Linked DNA regions of Homo sapiens: region 1 is linked to region 2. Evidence: fine-mapped QTL for protein levels in blood plasma. A gene starts in region 2. The other region holds a variant in brackets. All regions are shown on one strand. Distances are between the middles of the regions. Region 1 overlaps LDLRAD3 (low density lipoprotein receptor class A domain containing 3). Region 2 holds the start of FJX1 (four-jointed box kinase 1).

Region 1 (12,736 bases), 440 kb before region 2:
CTCTAGCCTGGGCAACAGAGTGAGATCCTGTCTCAAAAATTTTTTAAAAAAAACTATTAGAACTAACGAACAAGTTTAGCAAGGTTGCAGGAGACAAGGTGGATACACCAAAATCAATTGTATTTGTATACACTAGCAATCAGCAATCCAAAAATGAAATTATGAAAACAATTCCATTTCCAATAGTATCAAAAATAATAAAATACTTAGGAATAATTTTAACAAAAGAAGTGTAAGACTTGTACACTGAAAACTACAACACATCACTGAAATAAAGAAGACCTAAGTAAACAGAAAGCCAAACCATGTTCAAAAATTGAAAGACTTAAAATTGGGTAAGATGGCAATACTCCCCAAATTGATCCACAGAGTCTATGGAACCCTTATACTAAAATCTCAGCTAGCTTCTTGGCAGAATGGACAAGCTGATCATAAATTCATATGGAGATTCAAGGGACTCTGAATAGCCAAAACCATATTGAAAAAGAAGAACAAAATTAGAGGACTAACAGTTCTCAATTTAAAAATGTACTACACAAAGCTAGAGTAATTAAGACACTGTGGTTATTGGCATAAGGGTACACATATGGATCAATAAAATAAAATTGAGTGTCTAGAAACAAACCTTTACTTTTCTAGTCAATTGATTTTTGACAAGAGTGCCAAGAAAATTCACTGGATAGTCTTTTCAACAAATGGCTGAAACAACTGGAAATTCACATATAAAAGAACGAAACTGGACTCCTATATTCCATATAATGGAATGAAGTACTGATACATGATACAACACAGATGAACCTTGAAAACATTATTCTAAGTCAAAGAAGCTAGACACAAAAGGCCACATACTGTATGATTCCATTATATGAAATGTCCAGAATAGGCAAATCTGTAGAGACAAAAAGTGGATTAGTGGTTCCCAGGGACTAAGAGAGGGAAGAATGGGGAATGACTGCTAATGGGTACATGGTTTCTTCCTGGGGTGATTAAAATGTTCTAAAATTAGATAGTCGCAATAAATTGCACAGCTCTCTGAACATAACCAAATAAAGAACAAAACTTTCTGGTAAATCCTGAGATCTAAGAAGACTGGTGACATCAGAAATGAAAGAGTTGCTTTTTTCCAGGAAAGTCCTAATTAGCCAATTCCTCCCCAGGCAAAGTTAGGCAATACTGGGGGATGTAGTGGGGTGGGTGTGGATAACCCTTCTGGTCTTAAGTTTGAAGTTTACATTTGTTTTATTTCAGTTCCTTCCTCAGGGAAGGACTTTCAGGCCTCTCAAAAAAGTATCAAAGAGCTGAAACTCACCAGATCACCACATCCAGACAATGAAATGCAGAGACTCTCTATTCATCATAATCGTTTCCTTGCCCTTTCCCAGTTCCTGTTTTCTTACACATTGTTACATTTCTTCCCTGCTATACAAAGCTAGTTTTAGTGGGTCAACGTATTAGTCCCTTCTAATAAAGATACACCTAAAGACATACCCAAGACTGGGTAATTTATAAAGGAAAGAGGTTTAATTGACTCACAGTTCAGCATGGCTGGGGAGGCCTCAGGAAACTTACAATCGTGGTGGAAGGGTAAGCAAACACGTGCTTCTTCACATGGCGGCAGCGAGAAGTGCCAAGCAAATGGGGGAAAAGCCCCTTATAAAACCATCAGATTTCATGAGAACTCACTCACTGTCATGAGAACAGCATGAAGGTAACCACCCCCATGATTAAATTACTTCCCACCAGGTCCCTCCCATGACGTGGGGATTATGGGAACTACAATTCAAGATGAGATTTGGGTGGGGACACAGCCAAACCATGTCAGTCAGGGAGATGGATTTGAGACTGACTGAGCTCCCATCTCCTAAGCTGCAGCACCTAATTAAAGGCTTCTTCCTTGGCAATAATCGTCGTGTCAGTGATTGGCTTTCTGTGTGTCGAGTAACAGGACCTAGACCGAACCCCTGGTGTTTCAGTAACAAAAAGAAAGACTTACCTGGCCCCAAAATGTCAATACTTTTGAGGTTGAAGAACCAACCCTGTACTAGGGAAAGGTCAATACTCTTGGATTTTTTGCCTTTTCAGATTTACAGAAACTTTATATTCTATATCATATGGGCTATAGCCCATATTAATGGTTAAGACTATAAAGTTATTTTTATCATAGAAATCAAACAGACATGGATTCAAATCCTGGATCTACACCTTACCAGAACCGTGACCTTGGACAAGTTACCTAACTGCCCTGGGCTTTTCCTCTCTCATCTGTAAAATGGGAGATGAAACTGACCTTACAGAGTAGCTGGGAGGATTAAATGAGAAGATGCCTGTCTAAGGCTAAGAGTTTTTATTACTATAACTACTGTTTTTTTTTTTTTAAGTTCCCAAAGTGGCTTGGTATCAGAAAATGGGTGACTGGGTCACCTAAAAATAGGGCTATTTTATCCAGTAACAATTAATATGCAAACTGGCAATTTTATGAGCTAATAAGCAATTGAAACATACAGTTGATATTCCTCACTACTACATTATAATCTAGCTAAAGAGAGACTTACCAAAGACCCAGTTGCCATAGTAATAAAAGTTTCTGTGGGTCTTACTGATAAATGCTTTCCATTTTCCAGGCTGAGCTTTATGCACAAGCCCCCTGTGGTCGAGTCTTTTCTACTTACTAAACCTATTATCTTTCTGCTGCTCAAAAACCAATTTATTATAGTGAAAAGAGCCGCCCAAAACAGGGCATGATGACAGCCTATCATTTATTGTGGGTTTTTGTAATGGAGCTCCCCAGTTAGTAGTATCAATTAGCAGCTCAATAAGACATGCAGCTGCTGCTTAGCAGCTCAGTAAGACATATTAAACCACCTTCTATCACCTCCACTATGCCAGGTACCAGCACAAGATTGCTTCATGCTTGGCCAGGCACAGTGGCTCACACCTGTAATCCCAGCGCTTTGGGAGGCCAAGGCAGGCAGATCACTTGAGGTCAGAAGTTCGAGACCAGCCTGACCAACATGGTGAAACCCCGTCTCTACTAAAAAAATACAAAAATTAGCCAGACGTAGTGCCACGTGCCTGCAGTCCCAGCTACTCAGGAGGCTGAGGCAGAAGAATCACTGGAACTCAGCAGGCGGAGGTTGCAGTGAGCCGAGATTGCACCACTGCATCACAGCCTGGGCAACAGAGCGAGACTCTGTCTCAGGGGAAAAAAAAAGATTTCCTCATCTTTACCGTAAATGAGGAAGAGGAAGAAGACACTCTTACTAAATGTTTATTGTGTGTTCTGGGCTTTCGTGGACTTTACCCCACTTAGGCTCCACCAAAAAACTGTGAGGCAGGAATGATTACCAACACTGCACAGAAGACAGGAAGCATCACAGTGGTTAGGTAACCTGTCCAGGGACACACTTTTATATACATATTTATCTGTTATAAATTCATATTTTCATAAATTGAGTTGGCTGAGATAAATAAATAGTTTAAAATGTGGAAAATGGGATGTTATAAGGAAAAGCAGAAAAGAAAGGTAATAGACAAAAGCATTCCACAAACTATTATATGATTACTAGTATCAGGGCTCAAATTTTAGTTGAGTTTCCTTGTGACCAAAACAACAAAGGAAGCATGATCAATAGTGAGGATGGAGAGAAGTATCCAGAACATTAGAAGTGAACTCTTTATAAGACAAGAGATTTTTGGTGCTCCCACACCATAACCCCATCACACAAGCAAGTAAATCATAAAATGTGAGTCAGTTACAAAATTTGAACCCAGATCAGACTGAATCCCAATCCTACAAAGGCTACCCTAAGGAAGGATGAGTGTGAATTCATCATTCAAATTCCACATTCATTTCCTCAACAAGCACTGTGGTGGGGTGATTAAGAGCAACAACTCTGGAGTTGGACCACTTAAGTTAAACCCCAGCTCTGCAACTTTCTAGCTACATGGCTACATGATCTTTGATTGTGAGTTATATAACTTTTTTTTTTTTTTTTTTTTTGAGACAGAGTCTTGCTCTGTCGCCCAGGCTGGAGTGCAGTGGCGCAATCTCAGCTCACTGCAAGCTCCGCCTCCCGGGTTCACGCCATTCTCCTGTCTCAGCCTCCCGAGTAGCTGGGATTACAGGTGCCCACCACCATGCCCAGCTAGTTTTTTGTATTTTTAGTAGAGATGGAATGTCACAGTGTTACCCAGGATGGTCTCAATCACCTGACCTCGTGATCCACCTGCCTTGGCCTCCCAAAGTGCTGGGATTACAGGCATGAGCCACCTCACCCAGCTGAGTTATATAACTTCTGATGCCTCCATTTCCTTATCTGTAAAATGAAGATGCCAATCATGATACCCATCTCGCAAAACTACTTTGGAGATTAAATGTAAAGCACTTAGACTTTTTAGTCTCCATTACATAAGTGTAAACTATTACTATCCCTCCTATTCCCATCACTGTCTATTGATAACTGGCTATGTGCTAGGCATTGTGCTAAGCATGGGTGGATAGAGCCTTTCACAAGGCAGGGGAGGTCTCACTCTCAATGGTGCTCTAGTCAGGGGAGGATGAAAAAGAAAAAACAAAAAACAAATCAGGCAGTGCTAAGTGCTAGGTGGTGATGTACGGAGATGTGATAGTCGGCAACCGTACAAGTAGTTTGGGTGTTGAGGAAAGGAATATCTAAGGCAGAAGCAGTTCCAGAGAGGTTTAGAAGACAAGAAGTCAGCCAACCAAGGGTAAGAGGGGACAGCAGCCAGGCAGAGGCAACATCTCAAGAACATACCTAAAGCCTGGGAAGAACTTGAAACAGAAAGAAGGGTTGTGGAGTGGGGCTGAAGCAGAGTGCCCAGGGATGGCAGGGGAGGGTACAATGAATCAGAGAGGTCAGCAGGAGCCAGGTCAGGTAGGGCTTCTTCAGCCTGGCTAAGGAGTTTGAGTTCAGAATTCTAGCTGTGATGAGAAGTCATTACAGGGGAGTGACCTTATCTTTTTTTTTTTTTTTTCTGAGACAGGGTTTCACTCTGTTGCTCAAGTTTGTGTGCAGTGGTACAATCATGGCTCACTGCTGCCTCAACCTCTCATGCTCAAGTGTGCCCCAGCCTCCTGAGTAGCTGGAACTACAGGCATGAATTACTGACCAGCTAATTTTCTCATTTTCTGTAGAGACAATGTCTCACTATGTTTCCCAGGCTGGTCTTGAATTCCTCGGCTCAAGTGGTCCTCTTACCTTAGCCTCCCAAAATGCTGGGATTACAAGTGTGAGCCACTGTACCTGGCCTGATTTATCCTTTATAAAAGACCACTCAGCTGCCCTGTGAGAAATGCTCTGAGAGCACAGAGGGAGGCACAGAGGGAGGTAAAGGAAGCAGGAAGACCAGTCCAGGGAGTGACAACAGTGCCTTACACTAGCACAGGAGTGGGGAAGACAGAGAGCTGTGAATGAACTCAGTATCCTCTAAATCAGGGTTCCTCAACCTCAGCACTCTTCACACTAAAGCTGGATAATTCTTTGTTGAGGTGACTGTCCTATACATTGTAAGGTGTTTCACATCTTTCCTAGCCTCTATCCATATACACCAGCTGCAACCCCAATTGTGACCATCAAAAATGTCTCTATACATTGCCAAATGACTATGAGGGTTAAAATCACCTCTGACTGAGACCCACTGCTTTAGAAGTAGAGTTGACTGGGCTTGCTAATGGATTAGAATAGGGAGAGTGGGCAATTACTAAAACAGAGGACTCAAGAAGGATTTCTAAGTTTTTGTATGTAACAAGGTAAGATCATCTCAGACATTCAGAGGGCTCTCCCTCTATACCAGTGGACTGGGTTTTGATTTGCAGTGCCACTAAATCATTCATTCATTCAAACAGTCCACAATGAGTGTCAGCCAAACCCGATGCCAGGGATGCAAGCATAACTTAAAGAGCTCGCAATCTGACAGAGACGCAGACCTATAAGCAAATGGAGTTGATAAAGTAGGTCATATGCTTCAGAAAAACCCCCAAGACTGACCAGAAGCGTGAAGGAAGACGTGGCTCTTTGCTTCTGGGGGAAGTGGTGTGAGTGCTCCAGTGAGATTCCAGTGTTGTGCCTGGAAGACAGAGGCACAGAGGGAAATGGCATGTGCCACAGCACCAGGGTGTGAGACAGAGCTGGCGGGCGGAGAGCAGGAGGGAAGGAGCTGCTGCTGAAGAGACAGGAGGGACCAGCCAGGAGGGCTCTCTAAGACACACTTGATTTCATGTGCAATCTGGGAGCCACTGGAGGGTTGTTGTTATTATTCCTACTACTTATTACTAATGATTAAAGGAAAATCAAAGAGACATCTCCTGAGTGCTCAGAGGGCATCAACCCCAGTGCTGGGCGCTCCACTGAGATGAGGTACTTCATCCCTCCTCCAGATGAGAAAACTGCAACCTAAAGAACTCAGTGACTTGCACAAGATTTCTTGGCTGACAAGTGGCAGAGCCAGGATGTGAACCCAGACCAGCTGGCTCCAGAGTCCACGTTAAGCAAGGAAATGGTGACGCAAATGTGTGGTTTCGGACAATCATTCAGGAAATAAAAATATCTGAGGATCACTAGTTTATGGAAATAAATGAGCAAGGGAAAATGTATTAGATGGAAAGGTCAGAATTCATTTCCAGGCAA[C/T]TGACGATCCAGGGAGGAAGACCAAGAAGGTAGAAGGGCAGCCAAGAGATAGTGGGCAGAATCTCAGCAAACAAAGGAGAGAAGACGAAGAGGCAGTCTGCAGTGTCCAGTACCGCTTCAAGGCCAAGTAATAGCGTATTTCAACATTTGCTGGATCTGACAACTAAGAGATTCTTGGAGCAAAACATTACTGTGGAGGATGCAAAAGCCAGGTGCAGAGGGCCAAGGAGTCACACACTGGCTACAACAAAGGAGAAGGAACAAGAGCCAGTGGGACACTAGCTTGAGGAAGAGTTTGGGGCCAAGGGACAGACGAAAGATGAGGAGGTAAAGAAGTAATTACTGCGAGGAATTCACAAACTTGAGTGTAGATTAGGCTCCCCCGGCGAAACAGGATACAAGTGGGCTTCTGGCCCCATCCCAAACCCAATAATCAATGTTTCCCAAGTTGGCCTCAATCCACCAGGGACCCTGACGATCACAGGAACCACTGAGTGAGGCGGCGTTTCTCATAGTGTGGTTCCTGGGACACTGGCAGTTTCCTGAGTCTATCCTAGGCCTCCTGATTGAGAATATCCCAGAAAGGTCCTGGGAAGCTGCTTACTGAAGACTCCAGGTCATTCTGATACAGCCAGCTTAGCTCCCTGAAAATCATAAACTCTAGACCCTTGTGGCTCAAAGTGTAGACCTCAGACCAGTGCATCAACAGTCACCTGGGGGGTTGTTTGAAATTCAATCAGCCTTACCCCACATACCTACTGAGCCAGACTCTGCATTTTACCAAGACCCCCATGCCTTTTGAATGCATATAAAGTTTGAAAAGCTCTGGACTGCAATACAGGGAGGATTTGGGGAGTGAAGGGAGAGGTATCGTGTACCCTCCTGCCAGACATATTTAGTGGAGAGTGCCCTGAGAATGCTTGCTGCTAATTTTAACAGGAGATAGCAAAGTGTTCCTCAAAGAAATCTCCTTCAAGGTTCTGATGCTTCAAGCCACTGCTGCACCCTTCAGGGCTGAGGAGCTAAGTCAATCATGATTTCAGACATTTAAAATGCAATATCTTTTTGCGGCAATGGGAAAGTATTGCACTTTATGCATTCCGAGAGCTCCAAGTGAATCCTGAAAACCTCCTCCATACAGACCTGCCGTGGTGTGCACTTACCCACAGGGGGCAGCACAGCAGAGTGGTTCAGTGGCTCAACTCAAGCCAGAATGTCTGCTTTCAAAACTTGGCTAGGCCACCCAAGTGCCTCAGCCAGTTACTTAACTTCTCTAAGCCTCAACTCTCCAACTGTATAATGGGGATACTAGCAGAACTTAGGTGATGTGAGGACTGAATGAGATCATCCATGCAGAGCATTGGGCACAGTGCCTATTATATAAAATTCAGTTGCTGTTTAAAGGCAGGCTGTCAGCCAGGTGCGGTGGCTCACACCTGTAAACCCAGCACTTTGGGAGGCCGCGGCGGGTGGATCACAAAGTCAGGAGTTCGAGACCAGCCTGACCAACATGGTGAAACCCTGTCTCTACTAAAAATACAAAATTAGCCGGGCGTAGTGGCGCATGACTGTAATCTCAGCTACTCAGGAGGCTGAGGCAGGAGAATTGCTTGAACCTGGGAGGCAGAGGCTGCAGTGAGCTGAGATCATGCCACTGCACTCCGGCCTGGGTGACAGAGCAAGACTCTTGTCTCAAAAAAAAAAAAAAAAAAAAAAGGGCAAGCTGTCTGACCCCAGAACCCCTACACTACATGCTCACTTAGAGTCTCTACCATTTTGCATAACCTTAAAGCTACCCAAACTCATTCCTACATGTGCAGGTCCACCTGCAAGAAAAACATTCTGTATTTTCACAAGGAAGAGAACATTCCATTGAAAATTACAGAGGTCTGTAGTTGTAAGGGTGCTTGAAGGTAACATAACAGAACCACTTTATAGATGAGAAAACTACGGCTGAGAAAAGCGAGAGTGCTCACCCACAGCAAGAGTTCATTCTTTGCACCAAAGTATACTAACTAGGAAGACCACAGGCAAGTGTCTTTTAGCGCTGTGGTTTCTACCCTGCACACGGGCACTGTGGCTGCACAGGCAATGGCTGAACCAGGGAAGACTGGCCCTTCTGGGCCGATAGTGCCATCTGCCAGTCCCCCAGGCTGTGCTAAGCAGTGGGAGTGCCCCTAGCACCATGGAATTAAATGGAGAAGCCAGTGAGGCTGCCAGGAACCCTCTGTTTCTGAACATGAAAGCCCTTCATTAGCTTCTGCCTCTGGTTTTAAATCCAAGCAAAATATCTGGATACCATGGCTTGAACTGATGATAATAGGCATCTATGCAAGGGCTGAGAGAGAAAGAGAGGGAGGGATAACACTCTCCAAGAGTTCATACCCCTTGGGACCCAAATCAAAAAGGAGAAAAGTTGAGAGAATATTTCCCTTCAGAAGAAAAATTAATTACAAGCAGGAATTGGGGTCAGGGCAGGTGGAAAGGGAGGATATGAGGCTGTTAAAGTGAATCAATCAAGTGATCCTTTAAAAGTGCTGAGAGAGCAAGTGTGTGTGTGTGTGTGTGTGTGTGTGTGTGTGTGTGTGTGTGTGTGTGTGTGATCCATCCACACATCCATCCATCCATCCATCTATCCATCCACCCATTCATCTATCCATCCATGCATCCATCCATCCATTCATCCAACCATCTATCCATCCATGCATCCATCCATCCATCCATCCATCCATCCATGCATCCATCCATCCGTGTATCCATCATCAATCCATCCATCCATGCATCCATGTATCCATCATCCATCCATTCATCCATCCATCCAGGCATCCATCCATCCATTCATCCATCCATCCATCCATCCATCCATTCATCCATCCATCCACCTATCCATCCACACATCATCCATCCATCCATGTACCCATCATCCATCCATCTATCCATCCATCCATCCAAGCATCCATGCATACTTCCATCCATCCATCCATCCATCCATCCACCCACCCATCCACCCATTCATCTATGCATCCACCCATGCATCCATCCATCTTCATTCTTTTTAAGCAGCAGCTTCTGTTGATGTTTTACAATTCTGTTCTTCCATCAGCAGAGAAATCAAAGAACTGGGTGATGTCAATCCTGTAAATAGCCAGCATCTCTGGGAAGATGCCAGAGGGCATGTTTCTATTTAGAAGGAAAAGAAGGCTCAGTAAAGTAAAACCCCATGCTCTAGGTTCCATGCAGGGTCAAGAAGAGCTGCTCTTCTACCTTGCTCGGCCATGGCATACCGGTCTACTCTGGAATTCACTCACAGAGGTACTGTTTTGTTTTTAAAATTGCTTGTTTTGTTTTGATTTTACTCACATCCCCTGCAGTCATACAAAGGGTAAATACAATGCTGCTCCTATGTAATTTTCCTCAAGGCCAGCCTTAAATATAAGACTTCAAAAAGGATTGCCGGTTGGTGGGAGAAAAATCCTGGCAGAATTAACAAATTAAGTGATGACACAAATCTGCCTTTGTACTCCCACTGTCTGGAATGAAAAACAAAATATTTCTGAAATGCAGAAAATGGGGGGGAAACCTGGCACACAACCTGGGATATTAAACAGAGAGCGCAGGGAAAGTGTGTTTCACATATGCATTGTTTTCATAATCGTTTACACTTGCCAAAGTTTGGTTTGCATCAGAGGATGATTATACAATCCACAGTTTATGTTTTCTTCTGAAATATACCCTACAGGGCAAAGGGAAGAGTGCAGGATGGATGGACTCTAGGGAACCCCATCCATCACCTTGTCTGTGGGCATAGCTAACTGCTAGCATTAGGGTGACTCCTTATAAGAGTCACATGACAACTTCTTGGAGGTGCTCATACAATGTTTCCAGGTAGCCCCTGTAGTAACTGTGAAAGGCCCCATCTCCTAATGGTGCATGGCCCATTCGCAGTGTCAAGGGCACTGAAGAGAGATCTTAATGGCATCATCTAAAAATTATCCTTAACCATGAACATAAGTCTCTTCTTCTGGGGTCACGGGAAGAGGATTCCAAGCAGATGTGCACCAGTCACTTCTGATTGTTAGAACAGTAGTGTTGCTGCTGCTAGTGGCAGCCAAGGCTGATGTCTACCAGGCACTGTACCAAGCACTTTGTATACATCCTTATGTTTATTTCTTGGACAGGTGGCGAGACTTACCCAGCCGTACAACACAGCCAGTCATGAGTGAAGCTGGGAGCTGAAACCATCAAAAGCCTGAGCATTTCTATTAACAGGGAGCTCATTAGCACGTAAGGCGCTCCACAGCTACCTTTAAAGAGTTGCAGAGAGATTTTGGCTCATTATGAGAAATAAATTTCTGAGTACTCTCATGCTATGATAGTTGGAAGTGAGCTCTGTTCTGAAAAAAGACAATTACAGTGCTGTCTTTGGAATCACAGATGTCAAAATGAGATTTAAAAAAAGAAAGAAAAAAAAGGCTGCTTAGAGAGCAAGTCCAGTAGGAATCAACTCTTTTGTCTGTTTACCACAGAAGCCTCTGTGAAAATCAAATCTCAAGCCCAATAGATATTTTTTACAAAATAGACTTATAGCTGCTTTGTTTTCGGCAAGGACAAGAGTCCATGCTCCAAGCCCCCATGGCTCAGGTGCTCTCCTTTCTCCCTTTGGCACTCCAAGAAGTACAGTTAGAAAAACAGATAGGGGTCCTACTCCTCACTGCAGAGTTTAAAAAAAAAAAAAAAATCAGACCTCAAATCAGAGAGCTGGGTCCTAGCAAATCCTGATTGGTCCTTATGACAGATATGCTAGACCCTTCACACATCAGCTTCTAGGACCTGGGCAGCATTTCTCTTTATGCTTTAATTTTTCTTTATGGTCCAAGGACAACCAGTTGCATGTACTTAAAGATGACATTGTTAATAACTATAGCTAATTCTTTTCAACAACTAAGAAGGGTCAAGCATTGTTAATACCTGTTAAACACTTAACAGGTACAAATGTATTTAAACTCTAGGAGGTAGATTCTATTTTATTATTTCCCTATTTCACAGATAAGGAAACTGAGGCACAGAGAGATTAAATAATGTGTCCAGTATGCAAAGGAACTAGGACAAACCCATGTTGGCCTCTGTCAAGCTTGTGTGTTTTCAAGCACTCCACACACTGCCTCCCATGCCAAAATAAGATGATGTTAGAAATGAACAATTATCATTATCCCACCTTCCAGAGATACCCACTGTTAACAGGGATATAATCTTATTGGCAATATTTGTTGAAATTTCCAACAGACAGGTGTCTCTTGCTGAGAATTTCATTTCTGGCTCAGATAAAGTCATCTCCTCTCATGGGCATTGCAACAAGAGCATCTGCGATCTATTTGATTTCTTTAGGAGATAATACGCATGAAAGAACTTTAAAAGCAAAACAAAGCAATAACCCATATCATGTCACCATCCCATTACTTAGCACTCCCTGTTCAAAACAGTTTGCTTTTGAGGCCACCAAACTAACTGCAATGCATCTGCCTGGACTTAGCAGAAGGAATGCTCTGCTGAACATTCCCCCTACCCAGACATCAAAAGAGGCTGGCAATGTAAGATTTGTCCAACCAACTTCCTTACTCAGTGAGACTCAGTCTAGTCCTATGACAGATGAGTTTCAAAATTCAGTGAGCACCAGACTCCCCTGGGCTGCTTGTTTAGATGCAGATTCCTGGGCTCCACTCTGTTTCTAAGAATTCTATTCCAGCAGCTTTTCAGTCATCCCCAAATCTGCATTAACAAATGAGTAATGTGACCCATCAAGCACAGTTTAGAAAGTACTGGTTGGGCACTGTCCCTAAGAGCCCAGGAGCCCAAGGTGGCAAAGAGCTTAGCCCTTTATTTTGTGGTTATTCGAGAGACGACTCAAAACTTAGTTTGTTTCACTTTTCTTTTTCTTTTTCTTTTCTTTCTTTTTGTTTGGCAGCACCATGCTGAGCCACCAAGATAACACTCCAGTACTCCTTTATTCATTCCGAAAATTTATGAGTCGTGTCATTATGGTTAGTCTGGTGACTGACAGATGATGGCAGGCAAGCGTTTACAACCTTTTT
Region 2 (11,789 bases):
GTTGGGCAGCCAGCGTGTCAGGCTCACCACGCTGCCCTCGGTCCAGTGCGCAGCGCGCAGCTCCTCCTGCACCTGCGCCCACTGCGCGCCCCGAGCCTCCACCCGAGCCAGTGCCAGCGGCGGCACGTGGCGCTGGAGGCCCAGCAGGCGCGCCAGATAGTAAGACAGGGCCTCGCCCTGAATCTGCTCCGGGTTGATGCCGTAGCGCACGCAGGCGCGGGTGCCGTCGGCAAAACGGGCCAGTCGGTTGGAGCTGCGCCCGCAACCCCCGCGCTCCAGGGCCACCATCCGGGCGCCGCGAGCCGCCTCCAGCCACGCCGCCGCCTGGGCCTCCGAAAAGCCCGGGGGCACCTGCTCCTCCAGGCCGCGGCTCCAGAAGACGCCCCCGTGCACCGCGGCGCTCTCCTCCGGCCGGGGCTGCCTGGCTGACACGTGCCACCTGGGCTCGCTCCGGGACTGCCGGGGCGGGCCGTCCGCGCCGGCCGCCAGGGTGAGCAGCGCCCGGAAAGTTTTCAGGGAGCCGCCGCGGGCGTCCCACGCCAGGGGCGGGGGCAGAGGGAAGCGAGGCGCGGGCGCGGGGCCGCCGCTCCGGGCCGGGCGCCGTGGGAGTCGGTCTTCGGGCGGCCGGGAGGCGGGCAGCTCGGTCCGCGGCGGCAGGAGCCCTCCCCACAGCGCCAGCAGCGAGCCCAGCGCCAGCAGCCAGAGCCCCGCGGTGGCGGCGGCGCCCCGCATCCTCCTGCCCATGCTCCCGCGGCTGTGCCGGTGCGCCGCCGCCGCTTCAAGCCGAGCCCAGGCACCCGGGTCCCGGCGGCGAGGCGGGCCCGGCAGTTTGTGGGCTCCGGGGCTTCGGGCGCTTCGGCCCCATCGCGGCCGCGGGGCGCTGCGGGGCTCTGTCCGGCGCTCCGCCCGGCGCTGGGAACTCGAGTCCCCGCCGCTTCCCAGCTGCTTTTGTATTTCGCTGTGAGACCCTCCGGTGGGCGCGATTCACAGGCGCCCGGACCACGTGGGAGCCAGGGGGATCCCCCTCCCCCTCCTCCGCCTCCGCTCCCCGCCCCCCGCTCCCCCGCCCCCTTCCTCTCCTCTTCCACTTAAAGCGGCGATGGCTCCTTCCGAGAGGGAGAGGCGGCCCCACACTCGGTCCGGGACTTGGGGGCCTGGAGGAAGCCGGACTGGCTGCGCCCGCGCCGGGGCGTAGGAGGGGGTGGCGCAGAGCCGGAGTCTGGGGCCTGGCGGGAGGGACGCGCCCTGGGCCCTCGCGGGGGTGTCTTGGTCGCCGGGTCCCTTTGCCTAGGCAGCGCGGGTCTCCTGCAAACTTCAGACAGATTTCCACCTCTTTCCGAGCTCCGCCAGGCTAGGATCAGGCAGGGTCCCTTTGCTTTCTCAGTTTCTGTCTGGGTGATTCACGCTGCTTTATGTAAATCTCTGGGAATGTCTCCGAGCCACAGAGGATGTGATTCCAGCGGAAAGAGGAACCCGCTGTAGCCAACAACTTTGAACCGACACTCCCTTTTCCGAGCTCGCACATCAGCACCAATCAGTATTGGCCGCTCTGCCTTTCCCAACGGACTCCCAGGGAATGAAGCCTCGCTGTGCACGTGCCCCTTGAACACCTAGGCCATCTCCCATTCATTCATGCATCCATTCAACACAGCGACTGCCCCTCAGTTCTGGTTCTGCTTACCAGAAGCAAAATCCACAGATCCGGGTCCCAGTGCTGCTGAAATTTACATTCCAGTGGGACTCTCAGGTTGCTAAGAGAGATTATAGCCATCCAACCTCGTGTTGGGGAGAGGGGAGTCAGGGACGACTTTTCGAAAGAAATGATACCGTTTTGTCCATGAGGAAACTGAGGCACAGAGAAGGGATGGGTGTTGCTCAGGATTGCACAATTAGCAAGGGGCGAAGCTAAAAGTCAAACTCAGGTCTCCTGGCCGCATGCACTTGATTTTCCCTCCATTAAGAAAGATCAGTATTTTTTTTTTAATCAAGTCAGCATTCTCAAGTTTGAAATTCACTGTCATTTGACCACTTTGTTCCCCAAATGTGATTTTTCAATTAAAAGGATTTTTCAAATGGAAAGGAAAAAAACCTCAATCCCATACTGCATTTGATTTACTGCTTTTACGATTTAAGGGAAAAAGAAATGGTGGTGGTGGTGGGGGAGGGAGGTGGTGAAGGAGCAAAGAAAACAAAATGAACAACCTCTTCACCCCAACACATCTTCCAGCCACCTCTGGGTTACATTTACCAGGAAAACTTGGATGCCAGTCGGCCCTCCCTTACCTCTCTGTATCAGAATGAGTCCCAGATCCACACTGAGATTCCCAGGGTAGACACAAGATCAGGGGCATGGTGGAATCCACCTCTCAAAGGCCAGAGTTTGAAATCTGTTTCCTTACATGGTGTGTATCTTTTCTCTCCTTTCATCTTCCCATCAGGTGCACATGGGGGTTTTCAACTGGACTACCTCATCAGTTGGCACTGATTATGTTTTATTCTCCAAAGAAAAAACGTTCTAGGGTGATAGAGCGTTCCAGGGTGATAAAGCAGACACTCTTATGTTTATGGCTGAGCAGAGGCATCAAAAAACCACATTTGGAGTATTGCAGCACTGACCCAGGATACAGTCAAGTGTTTTCACTGGTGTGGTTAAGTACATACTGGATGAACTGTTGAATCTGTTCCCAACCACATGGTGGCTATACCATGCCATTTTATAACTCTTATCTGATAATGAGATTACTATGGCTCCCATATGGTTGCATCGAAATATATTAATCCATTCAAAGGTCTTATTTTTTTGGCCTATGTAAGCCCCTCCTCATCTTTCCCTAGCAGGCAGGGACTATGTCTTATTTTTTTATTTCTTATACCACCTAACATAGTATATTACACTAAATAAGCACTCAATAAATTTAATTTTTTTGTCTTTTGGTTTAACTTCTACTGGGATATATATGTATTTATTTGAAAGGCAGCCTCTTTCAGCGTGGGCAAACTATAAGCAAGATCGCCACCTAGTGGGCATAAGTAGAGTATCATCTAATTGGAGAAAAGTAGACATTTTTAACTGGATGATTAATTGTTGAAGTTAAATTCGGAAGACTATTAAATGTCTACTGTGTACCAAGCTATGTCCTAGGGGATATGGAGAAATCCAAAGTAGTTGGGGTCTCTGTCTTTTTGGCTGCTAACAAAAGCTGTAAGTAACTACCATTGTAAACTTCCTGGGGAGTCTGTCTTGTCCATTGTTTTATGGCTGCCTGGGCACAATGCCTGGCACTTAGTGTGTGTTCAACAACAATTTGCTGAATACATCGTTAGAATGCTAATGAGATGCAAGTAGCATGTATCAAGTTTTTTTAAATTAAATACCTTACTACTAAATAATGCAAAACAATTTTGTCCAACGGTTGTGAGTTATTGTTCAGCTGATTAAAGAATACAAAATAAGAACTTCCACTCATTTGAAAAAGAAAAAATATTGGTGAGGGTTTTGCATGATAGATGTGAGGGGAAGCACATGATTTTAATTCTGGGAGGGCTGGCTTCAAATCCAGAGACTAGAAATCCTGGAATCTCCTAACCATATTGCTGGTACTGATGAAAAAAACCCAGACTTAAATAAATTGACTAAGATCGTACACCTCATAAGATGGACTAATTTTATCATTGAGCAGCCCTTTGCCTATAGCCATAGGACTGAATGCATCATGTACCAGAACAGGATGCATTAATTTGTTAAACTTTAACAAATTAATTGAAATGCAGAAATACAGAAAACCAAAGGAACAAACACTGCCCCTTCCTCAAAGTGGAATGCAGTTTTGGAATGGTATTTGATTATTTGAGACAGGGTTTAAAAACATGCCTCTGTTTAGCTGTTAGATGAAAATACTCCCATTCTCCTTTATTTTCTGGACTGAGGACACTCCCCTGCCACCTGTGGCCAAACCACTTTGGCTCTGTGGGGTAGCATAGTTAATCACCTCAGTCACTTCTGCCCTCTGGCAGTTGCTTGGGGATGAGAAATCCATTTGCACTTTTATGACTTTCTTAATACTCCTTAGAATTTATCCCTGAGCCTGAACTTCCAATATCTTCAAACTTTTCCACAGTCCTGTTTGAAGAATGATCTGGTTCATGTAATGGTGCCTCCTGGGGGAAAGAGAGGAGGTGGAGTTGAGGGTTGGAAGCAGGGGAGGAGGCTTGGAATTGGAATATTTTCCAAGTCTGGCATTAGCACTTTCTGGCTTGTTCCTTGTTCTAGTTATTTACTTTCTGTGAGTTTCAGTTTCAGAACCTGAGAAATAAGTTAATAAATCCTTCCTAACTCACAGGGTTGTCATGCAGCTCAAGTGAAATATTAATAATAACCACAGCATCAGTGGCAGCAAACACTTATTGAACTCTTATTATGGGCTCGGTGTGGAGCTAAACCCTGCATGTGCTTTATCTCATGAAACCCCCCCAAAAGTATTATTATACCCACTTTACAGATGGGGAAGTGGAAGCTTAGCCAATCAGTGGAATGAGGTCATGCAGCAAGGAAGTGGCAGGGCTGCGATTCCAAAATGATGGGGACCAAACCTTTTGTAAATTATAAACTGCTAGGGAAATGTCAGGTGCAGAAATTATTACATTAAATCAAAATAGATTCAACTGAGATGAAATTTTGGTTTCATGTGTTCTCTGGGGTTTGTTCCCAAGTGAAATGGTTAAGAGTGTGAACTGTCAAGCCAGATTGTCTCATTAAAACCCAGTCCTGCCACTTACCAGGCATGTGACTTCGGGTAAGTTACTTAACCCCTTTGTGCCTCAGTGTATATATCTGTAAAATGCAATAAGAACAGTATTACTAGTATTACTAACAAAAATTATAACAATATACAATATCTCATGATTACTAGTAATAGGAACAAATCTTATAGATTATTGTGATGATTAAATTAGTGCTTATATTTAAAGTGCTTAAAAGAGCATCTAAGTGTTCACTATAGTATAGCTGTTGTTGTTCTTTTTCCTTTCTATTTCCTTTCTATTTCACTGTTTCAGTGCTCAGATGGGGATGTCTTCCTTCTCTTGTTGCTGTCCTCCACCAAGTCTCACTTGGTCTTGAGAGACCTAATACAAGTGGTGTTCCAGCTCAATGCACCTGCTTTATGCCTGAAATGGTGTCTTTCCTGATAATTTTGCAATATTTCTTCCCCATGGAGCTGGACCACCTGGCTTCTACCAAGGTTCCCAGTGTAACTCTTGTTAAATGCCCAGAGCCTCCAGCCAGCCTCGGGCAGACAGCTTCTGGCTTCCTCTCACTAGTCTGCCTCCTTCAATCCTGACCTTTTCTGGATCTCCTGAGTTATAAGCCCCTGGAAAAGACAGAGGCGTCCAAATGTACCCTTCCACGTGCTTCTACAAAAAGGAAGAGAGGGGACAAAAGATGTCAGAGATGAGTATAATATTCCATGGAAGTGGTATGACTCCTACATTGGCCACTACTCTTTGACCCTGGGGAGTTTTCTAACCCCCTGGGCTATAATTTTATTATGTATGTATCTCTGTTACGGACTGAATGTTTGTGTTCCTCCTTGCACCATAAATTAATATGTTGAGATCATAACTCCCAATATGGTGGCATTAGGAGGTAGGGCCTTTGGGAGGTGATCAAATCATGAGGGTAGAGCCCTCATAAATGAGATTAGTGTCCTTATAAAAGAGACCCCAGTAAGCTCTCCAGCTCTGTTTTCATCATGTGAGGACCCAGAAAGAATACCGCTGCCTATGAGCAAGGAAGAGTAGCCCCACTAGACACCCAGTCTTCTGGCACCTTGATCCTGGACCTCCCAACCTCTCTCTCTCTGTCTCTCTCTCTCTATATGTAGATAGATAGATAGATATCTCTATCTATCTATCTATCTATCTATCTATCTATCTATCTATCATCTATCTATCTATGTATCTATCTATATATTTTTTTTTGAGGCAGAGTCTTGCTCTATCACCCAGGCTGGAGTACAGTGGCACAATCTCGGCTCACTGCAACCTACACTGATTTTCTTGCCTCAGCCAATTTTCTTGCCTCAGCCTCTCGAGTAGCTGGGATTACAGGTGTGTGCCACCACAATTACGTCCGGCTAATTTTTTTTATTTTTAGTTTTATTTTTGGTAGAGATGGGGTTTCTCCATGTTGGCCAGGCAGGTCTCAAACTCCTGGCCTCAAATGATCCCCCCGCCTTGGCCTCTCAGAGTGCTGGGATTACAGGTGTGATCCCCTGCGCCCGCTCAAATGTTTGTTGTTTAAACTACCCCAGCCAATGGCGCTCTGTTATAGTAAGCCTGAACTAAGCCATTCCCTCCTTCCCGTCTTTTCTACCCTAGGGTACATTATGTTTCTGCTTGAGGATCAGTTTCCTTTTCTTGGTATCTCTATTTGACTATGATCTGGGTCTTCCAAAAATTGCTTAACTGATCTCATTCTCACATTCTTGGCTGTCAAGGGTGGGTATATTGATGCCTGGTTCCAGATAAATCCTACTGGAGAGCTAGAAGGAGGTCAGGAAATAGAGTAGTCTTTGAATGCAATGAACCTATCTGCTTGAACAAGTCCCACTTTTAAGAACACATTGTGTTTCTGGAAAGAAAGTCATGGTTGACAAGAACCTTGTAAATTGTGATGAGACACATTTTTACGATTCTCTTTATTCCACCTAGCTCTCTTTTGGACCTGCTTTGCAAAGGTTCCTGCAGACACTAGTGTTAAAGACTCGAATCTAAAGGTTGGAGCACCGGTGAATCAATTTAGTAAATTTTAGAGCAGTCGCCAACACATATTTCAGTCCTGGTTACAGAGTATGATGGTAAGAATTCTGGACTGGGCATTTGGAGACATGAATTTCTCTACTATAATTTAGTTCCACAGACATTTGTTGCCCACATGGTAAAGGCCAAAGGACTGAGGAATAAGTGATTGGGCATCAGATCTTCCTTCACACCTGCATCAGGGAACGTTTGTTGTCTTCTTTTCATCCTCCGCCTTCCCTTCCTCCTTTTTGGCAGGTCTCTACCTTCATCCTCTGTGCCTTTAACCTTTAAGGGATGCTGAATCCTGTTTGGGCTGAACCAGTCATGGTGCTTTCAATTCCTTGCAGTGACTGGTTAAGGCTTAGGCATGTGAGACCATTCTGGCTAGTGAATGTTACGGGGGAAGCCCAGTGGAAGGTTTCTGGAAAAGTTGTCTGTACTCTTACAGAGACACAAGAAAGATATGGCACCTTTTCTGCATGGTTCAGGCTGGATGGGAGGCCTGGAACTGAGGAAGTCATGTTAATGCAAGGGGAACTACGTTCACACAATCAGGAAGGCAGAGTAGAGAGATGGAAGGAACCTGGATCCTTGCTGATGTCACCAAGCCCCCAAGTTAATCAACTCTGGAAATGCCCTTCCTCTAGATTTCCTGTGGTTTAAGCTACTCTGAGTTGGGGTTTCTGTTGTTTGCAGCCCAAATTCTCCTGAATGACATACCCTTTCACATCAGAGCTTACAAACTAAGGAAGGAGGCTGACTTATAAACAAACAGATCTCTTCCATCACAACTGGGCTACTGGGAAAGTAGTGTGGTTTAATGTTTTGGAACATGTGCTCTGCAGCCAGGCTGAGTCTTGCACCTATGAGCTGTACCATCTTGGGAAAATCACTTAGCCTCTCCGGACCACTTAACTCATCTGTAGAATGGAGATGGTAACTGTACCTGCCTCATTATTGTATGGATAAAATGTACCTTAAGCACTTAGAAAGGACTCAATAAATATCAATTGCTGTAGATATTATGGAAATAGAAAGCACACGCAGGAGCATAGAATAGGGAGTGACTGATTCTGCCAGGGAAGTCCAGGAAGGCTTCACCGAGGAGGCAGGTGTTAAGATGAGTCTTGAAGGGGAAGTGGAGATTTACAGGTGGGGTGGGAGATTCAGCCAAGTAGAGGGAACAGTGTGTGAGCTCAACAGCTGTGTGCCCACAGGCAGATTACCACATCTTTCAGGAGCTCAATTTCTTTGTCCTTGAAAGCCCTTGAGTGTGTTGAATTAGCTTAATCCTCTTTTGGCAAAAGAAGTAAATCTCAGGCCCCCGCCCTAGATTGAGAGCCACCTCATTAGAGACCCTCCATGGCCCCTTCATCAATAACCTATGATTGTTGGTCTCAACCCACCCTGAAAAAATTCACTCAACAAACACTCCCACTAAAAGAGGTGACTCTCGTTCTTCTTTGTTGATTTCTATTCTTCGTTGCCACCCAGAGATTTATCCAGTGCACAATTAGTGATTCTGTGCCTCCTCAGCTTTCCAAGGCCCCACATATCTCATCAGTCAGATAGATGCTGAAGCTTAATTAAGCTTGTAAAGCTTTCTGATTTCCTCAGATGAAAGGTAGTTCATAAGTACCAGGTTTTATTTTGGTAGCTCCTGCCAAGGGTTATTATAAATAGGACTTAGTGCGACGTGGCTAAGCTCTTAGGGTGATAATGTGTCAAGACCAATTGAGGCTGCCGAAAGCAGAGATATTATCATAATGGTTCTATCATAGGCGGTGGGTGTTAATGGAAGTAGCTGTGAAAAAAAGAAAGTACTGCAGCCAGCAAAGCCCGGATCGAGATGGTTGCAAGTGAAATATCGGCTGCTCATGGGATCTCCATCATAATCATTAACCATATTAGCCTTGGAGCCATTCTTCTGCCATCTCTCCTAGACCAGGCTCACACTCAAATAAAAAATGGATGCTTTAACTCCAAATGAAAATATATTCCTTTGCTGCTTTTTAAAATCCATTTACATTAAAATGATGGCCAGCAGGTAAGTAATTTGTAACTGGGGGCTTACTGCAGTGCAGAAAAGTGGCTTCGGAATAGTGAGTCACCTAAGTGGGAGACCAGGAGACTTCCAGACCCAGGAAAAGCCATTGCTGCTGGACTGAAAAATGGCTGGCAAGAGTAGGAAAAGGCAAGGGATAACTTACAGACACTCACTGATGGGGAATAGTGAGCGTAGAGGTAGTTTGATATTTCCACAATCAGGTGAGTGAAAAAACAGAAGTTCTTAGGTAATGCAGCCCTGGTTAAGAATGTGTTAGCTTCCAGGGCCCTAGCTTTGGTTGCCGAAAATCAGCTTTTTGCATTCCATAGGCAGACAACATCATTTGATGATGTTGGTGATGGCAGTGATGGTGATGATCATGATGATAATAATGATGTACCCTGTTGTCAGTTGAAGCCACCTGCTTTTTTGAGATCCAATTGGACTTAGCCTAAATTCCTATTTGTATTCCTATTGTATGGTCTCGGTGGCAGGGAGGTTCAAAGACTTTCCCCTGTTCCTGAGAGTCCCTGGAGCTTTGTGCCTCAAACTTCTGTCTGTGTCCACTTCCTGCTTTCACAGTTGTGACTTTGGCTCCAACACACATCAGCATGGGTGTGAAGTTCACTGCCTTAACCACCCCCCCGCCTGCATTTGGACCAAGATATCATGAGTTCATTGACTTTCCTGAAGATCTGGTGGGGCTCGCTGAGGAGAGGTCACTGCACTGCGCAAGGTCTTCATCCATGCAGCTGTCTTCTCTTTCCTTTCTCTCTCCCGCCCGTGTGGGGAAACAGGTGAAACTTTCCTCTTACATCATGTAAAACAGGGCTACTCCCATTCAGGATCCATTCAGGATCTCAGCTTCTAGTTCAGGTCAAGGTTTTTCTAGGGATCAAATTGGGGGGTCCCTGAAGGGATTTCTGGTAGACACAATTTAACATTTTCAGCATACTTTCTACACGTCAGGCAGTGTGCTGAGAGTTTTCCAAGCACTTAATCTTTAAGATCCTCCCACAACACCGCAAGATCTTATTTTCCCATTTCATTCATGGGAAAAAGGAGCATCATTAGAGTAAGCCTCAGACCAGAAGACTTCTGCTATTGGGTAAAAGAGGAACCCCAACTCTTGTCTGCCAAAAGACCAAGGTTATGTTAACTACAATGCCACTTGGCTTCCTGGGGCTGAGAAACACTGGTGAATTAGCAAAGGGGACTCTTACAGGGGAATTGCCTCTCTCCTTAGTACCTGCACGTCGTCTTTCTCAAGGCTGTTTGATATAGGTACTACCTGCATCCTCATCTCTGCTGAATGATTAAGCCCAAGCCCATTTACTGGGAGGTACGTTGCAGTACAGAAAGCTCCACAGGATTAATACCTTATTGAGTGGGATGTGATTGATCCAGAAAGAGGAGGGTTGGCCTGGCAATCCTGGAAATGGCACTGTCTCTGTCTGGGGAGCAGATCAGCCTGGACAAGAATGGCAATGCAAGAACACCTGCTGTCATTTCTCCTCTGGTTTTGCCCCTCCCATGAGCAAACTCTGAGATTGCCCCAGGGAAGATGCCTCTGTGGGGCTGGGTGTGTTTGTTTCACACCACACATTGAGACTTGATGCTGAATGTCTCCTTCCCTTTCATTTCACCTGAAGAATAAAAGAAGAAAGAAACTTTAAAGGCCACTTCTTGCTGCTTGAGTTTAAAAAATGGCTACATTTTACAATCTCGGCCTGAGGAATAGCAGGACAAAAGCTGAGGAATAACAATGGTTATTATCTAGCTCCTTGCAGTTTGGCCGAGCAGTTTCACAGGCTGATCTCATTGGGTTTTCAAAACAACCTGCTAGGGAGGGGTAGTAAGGCAGGGGTTAGTTACTGTTCCTACTGATGAAGAAGAAAGCTGAGCTTCAGAGAGTTGCGTGATGAGCCCTAGGTTCTCAGCTAGTTCCTGACACACCAAGAACATGAATGCACTTTACCTGAGTTTCACCTCAGAGGTTTTACAGGACACTCCGTCTTTGCCCAGTGTGACTCACATCTGCAGATTCTATCTCTATCTCATGTTTTCCACATAGTTACAGGTGCATGTTACCTGTATGTTACAATGGCTGCTAAAACTCCAATAATGAGGACAGAAAAAAGAAACCAAGGATTGCTAAAAAGCTAGAATATTTAGACACTCCTTTCCCATTCCATGGTGCTTTCTCTCTCTTTTTTGAGACAGAGTCTTGCTCCATCACCCAGGCTGGAGTGCAGTGGTGTGATCTCGGCTCACTGCAACCTCCATTTCCCTGGTTTAAGTGATTGTCATGCCTCAGCTTCCCAAGTAGCTGGGACTACAAGCATGTGCCACCACACCCTGCTAATGTTTGTATTTTTTTTTTTGGTAGAAACAGGGTTTCACCGTGTTGGTCAGGCTGGTCTTGAACTCCTGGCCTCAAGTGACCTGCCTGCGTTGGACTCTTCTATCTCTGTTACTAGCACTTATGAAAGAAAGGAAGTGGGGAAGGAAAATGAGCAAGAAAAGTTAGGGAAAAGAGAGAGAGATTATTTTTAAATACTTTTCTCTGCTTACCTGTTTCAATAAGCAGAAGAGCTAACCAAAGAAGTCAGAGAAAGAAAGTGCAGGTAATCACTGATTATTGACTTATTTGCTGAGTGAAATTTTTTTGGGGGAAAAAGATTATACAACAACTCTGAGATAGTTAACAGGAAATGGTAACAAGCAAAAAGCTTCCTCCTGTTTTTCTGCTCCTGTGCATGATACCCCCTCTCACTCAGGGCAAAATCAAGTCAGCAGATCAAAGCATGATGTTAAACTTTGTCTTCATCTCTCCCCATTGGGAGGGCCATTTAGTTAGGGGTGACAACAGGTCTGCATGGCTTTTTAGGATAAGTGAGAGTAGCTGGACTATAGAAGTCTTCCCACCTTGGTTTTCTCA

Evidence for each region. A credible set is the group of variants that fine-mapping cannot tell apart. PIP is the chance, under the fine-mapping model, that this variant and not a neighbour inherited with it causes the effect. Protein levels are from the aptamer-based SomaScan assay of Sun 2018.
Region 1: its variant is the best candidate, but not a certain one, in a credible set for the plasma level of the FJX1 protein (Sun 2018, PIP 0.72).

What each region holds. Positions count from the first base shown.
Region 1 is chr11:36,051,618-36,064,353 of GRCh38, reverse strand. All of the region lies in intron 2 of LDLRAD3 (low density lipoprotein receptor class A domain containing 3), which reads right to left. LOC101928510 (a long non-coding RNA gene) reads left to right here. Exons shown (of 2, transcript NR_135064.1): 2 at 1-1,071. Among named protein-coding and RNA genes, the nearest start is that of MIR3973, 48 kb to the right of the region's middle. The variant C/T (reference allele first, on the strand shown) is at 6,648.
Region 2 is chr11:35,607,592-35,619,380 of GRCh38, reverse strand. FJX1 (four-jointed box kinase 1) reads right to left here and starts at 921. Exons shown (of 1, transcript NM_014344.4): 1 at 1-921. The coding sequence starts at 744. RefSeq lists silencers at 174-443, 454-713, 734-803, 901-1,062, 884-1,213 and 1 more and an enhancer at 1-601.